Linked DNA regions of Homo sapiens: region 2 is linked to region 1. Evidence: fine-mapped expression QTL. Tissue or cell type: naive CD8 T cells. Region 1 holds a variant in brackets; the other region holds the start of a gene. All regions are shown on one strand. Distances are between the middles of the regions.

Region 1 (8,103 bases):
GCTGAGATCGCACCACTGCACTCCAGCCTGGATGACAGAGCGAGTCTCTGTCTCAAAACAAAAGAAAACAATAAGAATATCTGTTATATCATTTAACTGAGAGATACAGAAATGGATGCTTCAGCCTAGAATTTGACTGCCCTGCTGGTTTTCAACAATTCTCTTGTCTCTGGCTCATAGCAGGGTGGCTGTATAAGTGTCAGGCACTATGTCCAGATAAAAAATTGTTAGACAAAGAAGAGATCTTATCTTCCCATCTTTCTTTCTTGAATCTGTTTTCTTATGAGTGAGAATTGCTTTCCTTTTATATCTCTTTGACCATTTATTGGCAAGGGAAGTGGGATTGACATTAATGGCTTACAGTAACACTAGGCAGTAGAAATACGCAAGCTTCATGAGTAATTTTAATTTTTTTCACTTTAAATACAGTAGCGCTCCCTTATCCTCAATTTTTCTTTCTTGAATCTGTTTTCTTATGAGTGAGAATTGCTTTCCTTTTATATCTCTGACCATTTATTGGCAAGGGAAGTGGGATTGACATTAATGGCTTACAGTAACACTAGGCAGTAGAAATATGCAAGCTTCATGAGTAATTTTAATTTTTTTCACTTTAAATACAGTAGCGCTCCCTTATCCTCAATTTTAGTCTCAATCACAGTCCAAAACTAGGTGAGTGCAGTACAATAAGATTATTGAGAGAGACACCACATTCACATAACTTTTATTACAGTATATTGTTATAATTATCCTTTTATATATTATATATTTTTAATTGTTAATCTCTTTGCCTAATTTATAAATTAAACTTTATCATAGGTATATATATATATATATATGAAAAAACACGGTATGTATAGGGTTCAATACTATCTGAGGTTTCATGTATGCACTGGGGGTCTTGGAACGTATATTTCCCATTGGCAAAGGGCGTCTACTGTAAAGTTTAAAAAAACAGGCAAAATTAATTTTAACAGCATATTTTATTCAGTATATTAAAAATATTTCAACATGAACTCAAAATTTAAAATTAATGAGATATTCGTCATTCTTTTTTCCTCCATTAAAAAACAGATCTTTTGAAATACAAATCTAAATTGGGTTTGAGCTTACCACATTTTAAGTGTTCACTAGATACATGTTGCTGGTGCCACCATATTAGACAGTGAAACTTTGGACTAATCATTTGGGAGTAGAATGTATATTAGAATCAACCGGGCCAGGTGCAGTGGTTCACACCTGTAATCTCAGCACTTTGAGAGGCCGAGGCAGGCAGATTGAGCTTAGGAGTTCAAGACCAGCCTGGGCAGCATGGAGAAACCCCGTCTCTACAAAAAAAATACAAAAATTGGGTGTGGTGGCGCACGCCTATAGTCGTAGCTACTCAGGAGGTAGAGGTGGGAGGATTGCTTGAGCCCAGTAGGTCAAGGCTAGAGTGAACCATGATCACGCCACTGCACTCCAGCTTGGATAACAGAGCAAGACTCTGTCTCAAAAAACAAAGAATCAATGGTAACACTGCAGTGTAGTGCCAGGGTAGCCAGCTTGGTCTAGAATAGGACTCACGATTCTTCACTGTCAGTAATGTGAAGCCAGAGTAACTCATCCATACCTCTTAGTGAAAACACCAGTTTTTTGAGACAACAGGGTCTTGCTCTGCCACCCAGGCTGGGGTGCAGTGACGCAATCTTAGCTCACTGCAGCCTCGAACCCCTGGGCTCAAGCAGTCCTCCCACCTCAGCCTCCTGAGTAGCTGGGACTGTAGGCATATGCCACCACACCCAGCTAATTTATTCCTTTTCTTGGGGGTAGAGACAGGGTCTTGCTGTGTTGCCCAGTCTGGGCACCTAACTCATTTTTACGCGTAATATGGGGGGTGGGTTTTGTTATTCCGAAGTTCCACAAATAATAAAATTACACAGAGGGAAGATAAGTTTTTCCTTATGGAAAAGAAACAATGTAGACCCTCATTGATCTTTTTTCTCTTGGTTTCCCTGACTTAATTTTTGAGTCTCTTATGACAAGATTTTATGCTTACCAAAATCACCTTTCCTTAGCATATATCAATTTTATTCTTGCAGTCTTTCGTAATTTCCTTTTTTGCACCCTTGACAGATCTGGCATGAAAGTAGTTTTTTTTTTTTTTTTTTTTTTTTTTTGAGACAGGGTCTCACTCTGTTAGCCAAGCTGGAGTGCAGTGGCACAATCTTGGCTTACTGCAATCTCCACTTCCCAGGCTAAGATGATCCTCCCAACTCAGCCTCCTGAATAGCTGGTACTACAGACACATGCCACTATGCCCAGCTAATTTTGGGGGGTTTTTTGTTTTGGGGGGTGTTTTTTGTAGAGATAGGGTTTTGCCATGCTGCCCAGGCTGGTCTCAAATTATTGAGCTCGAGCAATCCACCCACCTCAGCCTCAAAGTGCTGTGATTACTGGTGTGAGCCACCGTGCTCAGCTTTTTTTTTGGGAGACAATCGCTCTGTCACCTAGGCTGGAGTGCAGTGGCGCAGTCTTGGCTCTCTGCAACCTCTACCTCCTAGGTTCAAGCAATTATTGTGCCTCAGTCTCCCAAGTTCCTGGGATTACATGCATGTGCCACCATGCCCAGTTAATTTTTTTGTTTGTTTATTTTTAGTAGAGATGGGGTTTCGCCGTGTCGTTCAGGCTGGTCTCAAACTCCTGGCCTTAAATGATATACCTGCATCGGCCTCCCAAAGTGCTGGGATTATAGGCATGAGCCAGCATGCCCGGTCGAAAGTAACTTTTTTTCTTTTTTTCTTTTTTTTTTTTTTTTTTTTTTGAGACAGAGCTTCATTCTTTCACCCATGCTGGAGTACGGTGGCACAATCTCAGCTCACTACAACCTCCACCTTCTGGTTTCAAGCGATTCTCCTGCCTCAGCTTCCCAAGTAGCTGGGATTACAGGCGCCCACCACCATGCCCGGCTAATTTTTTGTATTTTTAGTAGAGACGGGGTTTCAGCATGTTAGCCAGGCTGGTCTCAAACTCCTGACCTCGTGATCCACCCACCTTAGCTTCCCAAAGTGCTAGGATTACAGGCATGAGCCACCGTGCCCAGCCCAAAAGTAGCTTTTTCAAAAAAAAGAATTGATGCATAATAGGTGTACATGGTTTAGGGATGCATGTGATAATCTAATATACATTTATATAATCTGTAAATATTAAATCAGTGTACTTGGAATATTCATCACTCTATGTGTTTATGCTAGAAACATTCAAATTATTCTCTTCTAGCTATTTTAAAATTTACAACAGGTTATTGTAAACTATAGTCACCCTACTGATCTACTAGGTCTTATTTCTTCTTTCAAACCATATATTTGTACCTGTTGATCAGCTTCTCTTCAACTCTCTACTCCCCTACTCTTCCCAGCCTCTGGTAACCACCATTCTACTCTCTCTCCATGAGATCTACTTTTTTTTTTAGCTCCCACATATGAGTGGGAACATGTGATATTTGTCTTTTTGTGCTTGGCTTACTTCACTTAGGGACTTCCAGTTCTAACCATGTGCTGCATGACAGAATTTCATTCTTTTTTGTGGCTATAATATTCCACTGGGTATATATACCACATCTTTTTTTTTTTTGAGAAGGAGTCTTGCTATGTCGCTCAGGCTGAGGTGCGGTAGTGCAATCTTGGCTCACCACAACCTCCACCTCCTGGGTTAAAGTGATTCTCCTGCCTTAGCCTCCTGAGTAGCTGGGATTACAGGCACACGCCACCACGCCCGGCTAATTTTTTTGTATTTTTTAGTGGAGACGGGGTTTTACCATGTTGGTCAGGCTGGTCTCAAACTCCTGACCTCATGAGCCACTGTGCCCAGCCACCACATCTTCTTTATTCATTCATCTGTTGGTGGGCACTTAGGTTGATTCTATATTTTGCCTATTGTGAACTGTGCAGCAATAAACATGGGAGTGCAGATACCTTTTCAAAAAGTAGCTTATTTTTACATGCTAATATTTTGGGGGATTTTTTTCCTTTTATTTTCTGAATTGTTTGTTAATTGTAGACATCATGATATTTTTCTCCTAAATATTTTAATATGTAGCTCTAAAAAATAAGGCCTTTTGTGTGTGTGTGTGTGTGTGTGTGTGTGTGTGTGTGTGTGTG[G/TGG]CCACAGTACCTTTGTTAAGATCTAATAGGCCGGCGCAGTGGCTCACGCCTGTACTCCCAGCACTTTGGGAGGCTGAGGCGGACGGATCACCTAAGGTCAGAAGTTCAAGACCAGCCTGGCCAACGTGGTGAAACCCTGTCTGTACTAAAAATACAAAAAATTAGTTGGGCATGGTGGTGCACACTTGTAATCCCAGCTGCTTGGGAAGCTGAGGCAGGAGAATTGCTTGAACCCGGGAGGCGGAGGTTGCAGTAAGCTGAGATCACACCATTGCACTACAGCTTGGGCAGCAAGAGTGAAACGCTGTCTCAAAAAAAAAAAAAGAGGGCCGGGCGCGGAGCCTCATGCATGTAATCCCAGCACTTTGGGAGGCCGAGGCGGGTGGATCACGAGGTCAGGATATCGAGACCATCCCAGACAACATGGTGAAACTCCATCTCTACTAAAATACAAAAAGTTAGCCGTGTGTGGTGGCACGCGCCTCTAATCCCAGCTATTCGGGAGGCTTAGGCAGGAGAATTACTTGAACCCGGGAGGCGAAGGTTGCAGTGAGCTGAGATCGCACCATTGCACTCCACCCTGGCGACAGAGCAAGACTCCGTCTCAAAAAAAAAAAAAAGATCTAACAGAATTAATCAGAAATCCTTAATAACATTCAATACCTACTTTATTTAAAAATTTTCTGAGTTGTCCCCAGAATATCAGTGGATCATTATATTTAATTGTGATAACAGTATCATCTTAATAACATTACAGGCCAAGGCATGGTGACTCATGCCTCTAATCCTAGCACTTTGGGAGGCCAAGGCGTGAGGATTGCTTGAGCCCAGGAGTTTGAGAACAGCCTGGCGAATATAGTGAGACCTTATCTCTCTCTGTTTTTGTATTTTTTTTTAATTAGCCAGGTGTGGTGGCTTGTGCCTGTAGCCCCAGCTGCTCAAGAGGCTGAGGTGGGAGGATTGTTTGAGCCCAGCAAGTCGAGCCAGCAGTGAGATATGATCACACCACTGCTCTCCAGCCTGGGTGACAGAGTAAGGCCCTATCTCAAAAAAAAAAAAAAAACCCAAAAAGTAGTATTACATTTTTATTCACACTTGTTTAAGAGCAGTGCAGTGACTTGAAGGAGCTTGTATGGCCCTAGGGTTCTTTTCATAAGTTTGTCTAATGCTGATTCTTAGTCTTTTTTGAGACAGAATCTCACCCTGTCACACAGGCTGGAATGCAGTGACGCAATCACAGCTCAGTGCAACTTAAGCCTCCTGGGTTCAGGCAGTTCTCCTGCCTCATCCTTCCAAGTAGCTGGGACTACAGGCATGTTGGCCAGGCTGGTCTCTAACTCCTAGCCTCAAGTGAGCCACCCGCTTTGGCCTCCCAGAGTGCTGGGATTACAGGCGTGAGCCACCGCACTCTGTCTGATTCATAGTCTTTTTTTTTTTCTTTTCTTTCTTTTTCTTTTTTTTTTTTTTTTTTTTTTTTTGAGATGGAGTTTCACTCTTGTCACCCAGGCTGGTGTGTGCAGTGGCACAGTCTCAGCTCACTGCAACCTCCGCGTCACAGGTTCAAGCAATTCTTCTGCCTCAGCCTCCCGAGTAGCTGGGATTACAGGCGTGCACCACCACACCCGGCTAATTTTTGTATTAGAGGCGGGGTTTCGCCATGTTGGCCAGGCTGGTCTTGAACTCCTGACTTCAGATGATCCGCCTGCCTCTGCCTCCCAAAGCTCTGAGATTACAGGCGTGAGCCAGTGCACCCGGCCCTGATTCATAGTCTTTTAATATTTATGTCTAATACAGAAATCTTAACCTGCTTGGTGGTGAGGTGTCCTGTGAGCCCCTTGAAATTACATATAAACTTTGCCTGTGTGTGTGCATTTTTCAAGGGAGAGGTTGCATAGCTTTTGTTAGTGTGAGATTTGGGACTAAAAAATGGTTAAGACTGTTAGTTATTATTCCTGTTTTCCATAGTGGCTATCTTAAGGTACATTTCTTCAAATATTCTTTTTTTTTTTTTTTTTTTTGAGACGGAGTCTCGCTCTTTTGCCCAGGCTGGAGTGCAGTGGTGCGATCTCGGCTCACTGCAAGCTCTGTCTCCTGGGTTCACGCCATTCTTCTGCCTCAGCCTCCCGAGTAGCTGGGACTACAGGCACCCACCACCACGCCCGGCTAATTTTTTTGCATTTTTAGTAGAGACGGGGTTTCATCGTGTTAGCCAGGATAGAATGGTCTCGATCTCCTGAACTCGTGATCCACCGGCCTCGGCCTCCCAAAGTGCTGGGATTACAGGCGTGAGCCACCACACCCGGCCCATTTCTTCAAATATTATAACATTTTTCTTCCTGGCATTGTTACCTCCACTTCCTGAGCATCTCATTAAAGGTAACAGATGTAGGTTATTCTAATCTTTCAAAAAATCTTGTGTTAGTGGAAAGGAGAAAGTTTGAGGAAGAAATAGGATTGAGAGAAGGATGCTTTAAGGAGCTTAACCATGTTTAGGAGTCGGAGCCTGTCGGGGTTGGGGAAGATTGAAGACAGGGAAAACAAATTGACAAAATCTTGGAATACATGGCATGATGAGGTTGGATGAGCCTTAGGAAGGTACAAGAGATCTATCCTTCCATAATTTGGAAAACAAGCAGCAGAAGTTACAGTTGTTCATGCCTATTTCCTCAAAGTAGGAGATTGTGTTAGGTGTTAAGGAGGGTGATGGTGCTCAGAGGGACAGTTAGGACAGCCACCATGGAGAATCAATTCATTTTCCCTCTTGAATCTTTTTCTGTATTAGCTCCTTCCCCTGTAGAACTGATGTGTCAAAGGTTACCAGAGATCTCTTAAATCCCCTTATATTTGAGTTCCTACCTCACTAGTTTTCTTGAGATAACACAATGTAAATCTTTTTTTTCTTTTTTTTGAGGGAGTTTCGCTCTTGTTGCCCAGGCTGGAGTGTAGTGGCGCCATCTTGGCTCACCGCAGCCTCTGCCTCCCAGCTTCAAGCGATTCTCTTGCCTCAGCCTCCCAAGTAGCTGGGACTACAGACATGCATTACTGTGCCCGGCTGATTTTGTATTTTTAGTAGAGACAGGGTTTCTCCATGTTGGTCAGGCTTGTCTTGAACTCCCAACCTCAGGTGATCCGCCTGCCTTGGCCTCCCAAAGTGTTGGGATTACAGGCATGAGCCACCGTGCCCAGCCAACACATGTAAATCTTAACCTGATGCTTGTACATTAGAAATTGCTTAATAAGTGTTTTTATTATTGATGTTGCATGACAGCTGTGAAAATAGAGCTGATAAATAGGTTATAGGAGAAAGAGTGAATGAGATTGCCCAGGGAAAACATAGACTAAGAAAGGCCTGGACAAAATATTGCTTAAAGGTGTTCTAGAAGAGAAAAATGAGAGAGGTAAACAAATCGGGGGGTGAGTGGAAAAGAGATAATATCGTTATGTTGCTAGTTAACTGTTTCCCAAACATGTGGTTAACTTTCATACCTACTTGCCTTTCCTCCTGCTTTTCTCTTGGTCCTCTCTCTGGCTGGCTGAGCCCCATTCTTTGACAATTCAGCTTTTATATGTTGTTATAGCTTTTCCTCATTCCTTTATGCAGAATTTCTTATTTATCCATGTCCTCATAGCACCTAATGTACCTGTAGACAGTGTTTCTAAATGGAGTTGCAGACCTCTTTGAGAATAAATATGAAATGTTTGAATCCTCTTCCTAGAAAAATCTACATTTTACTCTTTTGCAAATAATTTCAGAGAAAGCCTGGATTCCTAGAGGCCTGTTCCATAGACCCCAGATTAAGAACCCCTGGCTTTTGTTTGTTTGTTTTACTTTAAAAAATTACTTGGCTAGGCACAGTGGCTCATACCTGTAATTCTGGTACTTTGGGAGGCTGAGATGGGAGGATTGCTTGAGCTTGGGAGGTCAGGGTTGCAGTGAGCCATGATTGAGCCACTGCGCTCTAGCGTG
Region 2 (8,091 bases), 140 kb after region 1:
CAAAAAAAAGAAATATAGGGGGCTGGGCATGGTGGCTCACGCCTGTAATCCCAGCACTTGGGGAGGCAGAGGCGGGCGGATCACGAGGTCAGGAGATCAAGACCATCCTGGCCAAGATAGTGAAACCCCGTCTCTACTAAAAATACAAAAATTAGCTGGGCATGGCAGCACACACCTGTAGTCCCAGCTACTCGGGAGGCTGAGGCAGAAGAATTGCTTGAACCTGGGAGGTGGAGTTTGCAGTGAGCTGAGATCGTGCCACTGCACTCCCACCTGGGCGACAGAGCAAGACTGTCTCAGAAAAAAAAAAAAAATACAGGGAACAGGGAAGGGTAATAGAGCTCAGTGAGCATTCTGGTGGAAACCATCTCATCCCCTCCGGTCCCCAGCATAGAACCAAATAATCAATACTATTATTAAGGAGGATGATGTACATGATGTTCTAGGTTTAAGGACTCATTCATGTCCGCATGGAATCAATTCATATTCTTCACGGATCTTCTGGGGTCCACACAGATCTGAAAGGCTGCATGTACAAAGGGACAATGCCATAAGCCAAGACTTAAGAAATGATCCTCGTTCAGCTTTATCAGGGGCGTGCAGTACAAGCAAGTTTCTTCAGTGCCTTACTTTTGCTGTTTGAAAGAGGACACAAATGGCCGGGTGTGGTGGCTCACATCTGTAATCCCAGCACTTTGGGAGGCCAATCACTTGGGCCCAGGAGTTCAAGACCACCCTGGGCAACATGGTGAAACTCCCCAGGCATGATGGCACGTGCCTGTAGTCCCAGCTATGCCTCCCAGCTGACATGGGAGGATCCCCTGAGCCCGGGAGGTCGAGGCTGTGATGGGCCATGATCATGCCACTGCACTCCAGCCTGGGTGACAGAGTGATACCGTCTCAAAAAAAAAAAAAAAAAAAAAAAAAAAGACAAGACAAGGCAGAGAGCACAAGTGATCTATGTATCATAGGGTTATTCTGAGCATAATACAAAATTGCTAATGTAAGAATCCCACCAAGAATACGATTTACTATTCCAGATGAACCAAGCAAGGACATGTCAGGTCAAGGAGGAACTGGAAAGGAATAAGCACTGGAACTCTAGGGCTGGGGTCGGAGGCAAGAGTCAGGGGTCATGCAGGATCAAGTCTAGGGCACCTGGGCCATCACTGGCACCTGGAGATCTAGCTTGGTCAGCAGGGAGAAAAGGACTCAAGGAAATTACCCAAGAGACCAAGATGGAAAGAATAAGACACAGGAACAGAAAGAGACAAAGAGAAGAGACAGAGGGGAAAATGGTGATGGCAGCCTGGTCACAAGGGCCCCAGCCTAGACCTCTCCTGTCACAAACACCTGCTGCTCGCTCACTACCTTCCCCAGAGTGCCTGGCCCTCCCCTAGCCAGCCCTTCCTTCTCCACCCCTCCCCATCTTGCTTTCCCGAGGCTAAAACTCCCAAGATACATACACATTTCTCCAGCACAGCTGCCACAGTGGGAAAAAGCCAGGCTCCCTCAACCCTCACCCATCATTTCTGCTCCAAGCTCCTCACCCCATTCCATCCCCTAACTTTAACTCCTCACCCTTTCCATTTTCCTGTGGCAACAGTAGCCCAGGAAGTTTCACCTAGCCTCAACCTGGCCAAGTGCAAAAAATAAAATTAAAAATCCCACAAGAATTATGTGGCACTAATCCAACAAGCAGGCCAGCTCAGAGTTTGTGGGAGACCCAGGTCTGTCCCCTACCAGTGTCTCCCCATGAGTGTTTCTGTATCTACGAAGAAGCAACTAAAGAGTCTATCCCTATCCATTCCCTGCCCAGGTTGCAGGCCATTTCCCAGCCAGCTCTCCCACCTCTCTCCAGTCTTCAGACTGTAACTAGAGACAGTCCCAGCAAGTGGCAGCTGGGATTGCTGGGACCAAGGTTGGGGTGGGGGCAAAACCAAAGGGGGAGTCCTCCCCTCACCCCCACCCTATTCAATTCTGCAGAATCTGGGTTTAAACAAAAACCCTTGTCTCTATAGGCCTGGCTCCTAAGCCTGGTTCCCTCCTGACCAGAGGCCTGAGCTACCTTCCACTCAGGTACTCAGAAAAGTGGACTGCTACAACGAAGACCAGCGGGGACTAGGAGAAAACACCTGCGAACTCACCCGCCCCCACACCCCGCCAGCCACCTCCCTCTTGGGTGCCCCAGTGACTTAGAGGTCATCCGATGGCCACCCACCCAGAGCAGACAGTCGACCAAGCAAGCCGCCAAGCTCAAGCCAAGGAGGATCAGGCCTTCCTGCGACTGCTGAGCCCTGTCTCTAGGGCTCCTATCTCCCCCGCCCCCTTTCCCTCTGTGGTTCCCCAAAAGCCAAAGAGGCTGAACAGGAAGAGGCTGAACAGGCCCAGGTCGAGTGGGGGCTCCACTGACCTTTGCCCGGGCCCAAGGCCTGCAGCGCAGAGGAGGGCGAGGGGCTGGCGGCGATTAGGTTGAGGCCAAGCTGGGTAGCAGACGGAATTAAGTCCCTGCCATCTGCCGAGGGCTGGCGCGGGGAGCAAGTCCTGGGTTTCGAGGAGGGGGCGGGGTGTACACATGAGAAACTACAAGGGAAACTGAGGCGCGCGGCCCTTCTCTCACTCGCACCGGCGTGCGAAGCGAAGGCCGGGCCTCAGCCAGGCCAGGCCCTTTGGGAGCTGCTGCGCAGCACCTGGGGACCCAGGACTACACAGGATAGGGTGGGGAGCTGGAAAGAGGGGAGGAGAGAGGGGACGGTCTCTGCGCGACTCTCAGCTCTCTAGCTGGGGTCCGTCCCAACTCGGACCTCGTCCCCTCCCCTCCGGGCGCAGCGGAGCCTCCTCCCGCCGCGCACTCCCGGAGGCTCGCTAGAGACTGGAGACTGATCGGGGGGTGCGCAGGGGGCCGGGGGCGCAAGCCTGAGTCTTGCCCGGGCCCGGACGCTGACCCGCACCCAGTCGGGGTGCAGGTTCTGCTCCGGCCTGGCCCAGGTCCCCCGCCCCCATCCCCGGGAACGGACACCATTTTAGGTCGCGACATCCCGCAGCCTTCAATCTCCGGGCCGCACTTCGGGTGCCTCTCGAGCCGGGGGCGCCAGGACCTGGGGTTCTCGACCCTCCTGGGGGTTTACCCGGCTACGGACTGTGCTTACAACAGGCCAGGAGTTTCGCCCATCCGCCCCAATGGATGGAGGCGGTGTCTGGGCCTTCCTAGAAGCCGCCCCAGGGGGCGGCGCGGAGAAGGGGGTAGTTGACCAAGTGGGGGAGGGGCGGGGGTATTTACCCGCCCCCCCCAAGGGGGCGGAGCCAAGGGCGGGTATTTACCCCAGGCACGCTTACTTGTTCCGCTCCTGGTGCGGGCCGAGACCCGGCGGTCTCTACCCCGCTCCAGCCGCTGCAGCCACCGCCGCCCTCCCCGCGGCCGCCGCTACTTCCTGCTTCTCTCCGGTTCGGCCTCCCCACTCCCTCTCCTCCCTCCGCGCTCCAGGTCTGGGCTGCCCGTTTTCGCACTCGCCATTGGCCCTTGCCCCCGTCGCTCAGCCCTGTGCCCCTTCCAGCCCCGCACTGGGTTGGCCCTAAATACTGCCGCTCGGAACTAGCCCCGCACAGTCCTCTTATGCTCATTGGGCAAGGGGCCGAGGCCCTCTGAAGATACCTCTCCCCATTGGCTGCGCCGGGGTCCGTCTGCCCCATCTACGAGTCTCGTAAACGATTGGCCTCCGCCACTGTCGCTTAGAAAGAAGCCAGCCTGCTTCCCAGCTTGCCTACTGGAAGGGGGAGCACCCAGGTGCGTCTCCGCCCCTCGCTCCCTACTGGCCGCTCGAAGCTTGAAGCTGCAGTTCACTTTCGCGAATGTAAGGAACCCAGCTTCTGTGTGGTGGGCACTGAGAGCAGAACCGCATTGAGTCGGAGTGGAGCACAGAAGTGTAGGTCCTTTTGCGCTGTTTCAAGCTAAACCCGTGTCACTGATGCCGTACAGAAGTTACAGAATGGGACGCCACCCCAAACATTACGTCATCCGCTGACCATTTCCTTGCGGTCTTCCCACCGTCTAAATCGCCATATAATCTGATGGATGGGGTCCTCGCGCGGTTCAGCTCCTGGGCGACAGCGTAACCCGTCGCTCCTCCCTCTGCGGGAGGGCGTGGACGGGGCACGGGATTTGGAGCATGGAAGGAATCGGGACCTAAAGGTTGGGAAGGGCTCGCGGACCGGAAGCGGGGGAGGTGACGTAGGAGTGCTGGCGTGGCCGGGCCATTTCCAAAGAGGCATTAAAGGAGCAACTGATAGGCGTCCTAAGTATGGGCTGGGGGGGGAACCGCCAGCTCCATTTCCCATTTAAGGGCTCCCCTTTTCCCCGCCCCCAGCATGGAGTGGGGGTGGGGTCAAGGTCGAGTTTTCCCGCGCTTTGTTGCCACGCCCCCTGGAGGCGGGGGAAAGGGAGGAGTCGCTCGGAAAATGAATCTCCTTGATGCTCTAATAGCACTCACTGGCAGAATTCGTATGCAAGCCCAGTGTGCCACCTCGCGCACGCAGCCGCTCGTTAACGGCGTGTTTTTATTTTTTAATTAATTTTTTTGAGGCAGAGCCTCACTCTGCTGCCCAGGCGGGAGCACAGTGGCGCGATCACGGCTGACTGCAGCCTCAACCTCCCAGGCTCCAGTGATCCTCCCGCCTCAGCCTCCTGAGTAGCTGGGACTACAAGTGAGCGCCAAATCGCCCTGCTAACTTTTTTATTTTTTGAAGAGACAGGGTTTTGCCATGTTGCCCAGGCTGGTCTCAAGCAATCCTACAGACGTGAGCCACTACTCCCTACCTTGGCGAAGTTTTTTATTTTTTATTTTTTGAAACGGGGCCTCATTCTGTCGTCCAGACTGGAGTGCAGTGGCGGGATCTCGGCTCACGGCAACCTCCGTCTCCCAGGCTCAAGCAATTCTCCTGCCTCAGCCTTCCGACCAGCTGGGATTACAGGTGTGCGACACTACCCGCCCGGCTAATTTTTGTTTTTTTCTTTTTTTTTTTTTTTTGAGACGGAGTCTCGCTGTGTCGCCCAGGCTGGAGTGCAGTGGCGCGATCTCGGCTCACTGCAAGCTCCGCCTCCCGGGTTCACGCCATTCTCCTGCCTCAGCCTCCCGAGTAGCTGGGACTGCAGGCGCTCTCCACAATGCCCGGCTAATTTTTTGTGTTTTTAGTAGAGACGGGGTTTCACCGTGTTAGCCAGGATAGTCTTGATCTCCTGACCTCGTGATCCGCCCGCCTCGGCCTCCCAAAGTGCTGGGATTACAGGCATGAGCCACCGCGGCCGGCCATTTTTGTATTTTTAGTAGAGACGGGGTTTCACCGCATTGGCCAGGCTGGTCTCGAACTCCTGACCTCAAATCATCCATCCGCCTTGGCCTCCCAAAGTGCTGGGATTACAGATGTGACCCACCGGGCCCGGCAAAGTTTTTAAAAGTGGTTTCGTTACCCTGCCCAGGAGTCCCAGGACACCGGAACCAGGACTCCCCGGCGCACCCGGAGAGTTTCCGAGCTCCTTTGAAGTATGAATCAGAACTTCTGGATGGGAATCCTGGAGCCACCACTTGCCCTATGGTCGCAATGGGCAAGTCGCTCAACCTCCCAGATCCTGTTTTCTCATGAGTAAAACGGGGATTATAATACCCACCTGACAATATTATTTTTGTGAGAATTAAATGAGTTTAGAATGTAAACACGCTTTGTAAAGTAATTGGCAGTTGGGATTAGTGTGCCCTTTCTCCCGGAGCCTTGCATCCTGTGCATTTGCTCAGGTGCTGTTCCTTCTCTGAGCAACTAATTAAAGGTCCCTAACCCGATGTAACCAACCGGCATTCCATTTCCACCTCCTCTTCTGGTCTCCCTATGCGGAATAACAATTACTACTCATATACACATAATATTTTGGGGGGCTCACGCCTGTAATCCCAGCACTTTGAGAAGTCTAGGTGGGTAGCTCACTTGAGCCCTGGAGTTCGAGACTAGCCTGTGCAACACAGCAGGACTCTGCCTCTACAGAATATTTGGAAAAAAAAATTAGCCAGGGGTGTTGGCAGGCACCTGTGATCCCAGCTACTGGGGAGGCTGGGATGGAAGGATCGCTTGAGTCCAGGAAGTCAAAACTACAGTGAGCCGGGATCGCACCACTGCACTCCAACCTGGGAGACAGAGCGAGACTCTGTCTCAAAAAAAAAAAAAAAAAAAACACACACACACAGAAAAACTTTATTTATTTTATTAATAAACATATTATTAATAACTCACGTAGTCCTTACCACAACCATGGAAGGAGGTACTATTTCAGGTACTGGAGATGTAGCAATGAACAAAGCAGACAAGAAGCCCTGTCATGAAACACACATTCCTAAAGAGAAGACAAACAATAAATATTAGAAATGGTAGCTGCCAAGGAATAAAATAGAGTTATCAAGCCATGCAAAGACAGAGGAATCTTCGATGCATATGACTAAGTGAAAGAAGCCAATCTGAAAAGGTTGCATGCTGTATGATTCCAGCTATGTGACATTCTAGAAAAGGCAAAACTATAGAGAGTAAAAAGATCAGTGGTTGGTTGCTGAGGGTTCAGGTGGAGGGAGAGAGATGAATAAATAAATGGAGCACAGGGGACTCTTACAACACTGAAACTATTCTATGTGATACTGTAATAGTGGATACATGTGTCAACAGCCATGGAATGTACAACACAAAGAGTGAACCCTGTGAGCATGGTGGCTCACACATGTAATCCCTGAACTTTGGGAGGCCAAAGCGGGAGGATCAACAAAAAATTTGAAAAATTAGCCGCGTACAGTGGCGCACACCTGTAGTCCCAACTACTCAAGTGGCTGAAGCAGGAGAGTCCCTTGAGCCCAGAAGTTTGAGGCTGCAGTGAGCTACGATCCTGCTGCCGCACTCCAGCCTGGGCAACAAAGTGAGACCCTGTCTCTTAATAATAATGTTTCCATATTGGTTCATCAATTGTAACAAATGTACCACACTAATGCGAGATATTAATAAATAATAGAGTAACCTGAGCAACATGGAGAGACCCCATCTCTACAAAAAAACTTTTTTTTAAGTAGCGTGGCATGGTGGTGCACACCTGTGGTCCCAGCTACTTGGGAGGCTGAGGAGGGAGAATCACCTGAGCCCTGGAGGTCAAGGTTGCAGTGAGCTGTAATCACACCACTACACCCCAGCCTGGGCAAAAGACCAAGACCTTGTCTCAAAATAATAATAATAATAGGGGAAACTGGAGAGAGAGGATGTGTGGGAACTCGCATTTTGTGCTCAATTTTTCTGTAAACCTAAAAATGCTGTAAAAAATAAAGTGTATTAATTTAAAAACAAAAACAATTTAAAAAAAAAAACAAAGCAGGCGGCTGGGCGCAGTGGCTCATGCCTGTAATCCCAGCACTTTGGGAGGCCGAGGCGGGTGGACCATGAGGTCAGGAGATCAAGACCATTCTGGCTAACATGGTGAAACCCTGTCTCTACTAAAAATACAAAAAATTAGCTGGTCATGGTGGCACACGCCTATAGTCCCAGCTACTTGGGAGGCTGAGGCAGGAGAATCGCTTGAACCCGGGAGGCAGAAGTTGCATTGAGCCGAGATCGCACCACCACACTCCAGCCTGGGTGACAGAGCAAGACTCTGTCTCAAAAAAACAAAAACAAAAGCAAGGAAAGATGACAGTAAGTGTGGGAGGGTTGCAATTTTAGGTAGGGTGGACAGTAAAGGCCTTTTCGAGAAGATGGTGGTTAAGTAAAGGTCTGAAAGAGATGAGGGAGTGAGCCATGCAGCTATCTGGGACAAGAACATTCCAGGAGGAAAGAACAAGTACAAGGTCCTCAGGAGGGGAGTGTGTTCCAGAGGGGGTGGGAGGAGTGAATTGGGTCATGGGATGCTTTGGAAGCTATGGGAAGGTCTTTGGCATTTTCTCACGGTGGGTTAGAAAGCCATCAAAAGGAGACAGATGACATGGTGGCCTGACTTAAACGTTTTAAAAGGGTTGAAAGTGGGGTGTGGAAGAAAGAAAAAGACTCCAAAGCATGGAGGCTGAGGAAGTAGAAGCATGA

Which allele goes with the higher level. Alleles are on the strand shown, and positions count from the first base shown. SD is a standard deviation of normalised expression in the study named.
For the expression in naive CD8 T cells of the gene that starts at base 3,433 in region 2, TGG is the low allele of the variant in region 1 and G is the other (large effect, 1.2 SD a copy in Schmiedel 2018).

What was found. PIP is the estimated chance that this variant, and not a neighbour inherited with it, causes the effect.
Region 2: ZNF687 starts here. The variant in region 1 is fine-mapped to the expression of ZNF687 in naive CD8 T cells (Schmiedel 2018, PIP 0.95).

What each region holds. Positions count from the first base shown.
Region 1 is chr1:151,413,722-151,421,824 of GRCh38, reverse strand. All of the region lies in intron 10 of POGZ (pogo transposable element derived with ZNF domain), which reads left to right. Among named protein-coding and RNA genes, the nearest start is that of PSMB4, 18 kb to the right of the region's middle. The variant G/TGG (reference allele first, on the strand shown) is at 4,137.
Region 2 is chr1:151,277,641-151,285,731 of GRCh38, reverse strand. ZNF687 (zinc finger protein 687) reads right to left here and starts at 3,433. Exons shown (of 9, transcript NM_020832.3): 1 at 3,337-3,433. ZNF687-AS1 (ZNF687 antisense RNA 1) reads left to right here and starts at 3,803. Exons shown (of 2, transcript NR_135595.1): 1 at 3,803-4,189; 2 at 5,474-5,708. RefSeq lists enhancers at 2,322-2,391, 2,700-3,585, 3,632-3,861, 3,892-4,091, 3,586-4,470 and silencers at 2,812-2,971, 3,252-3,531, 4,213-4,553.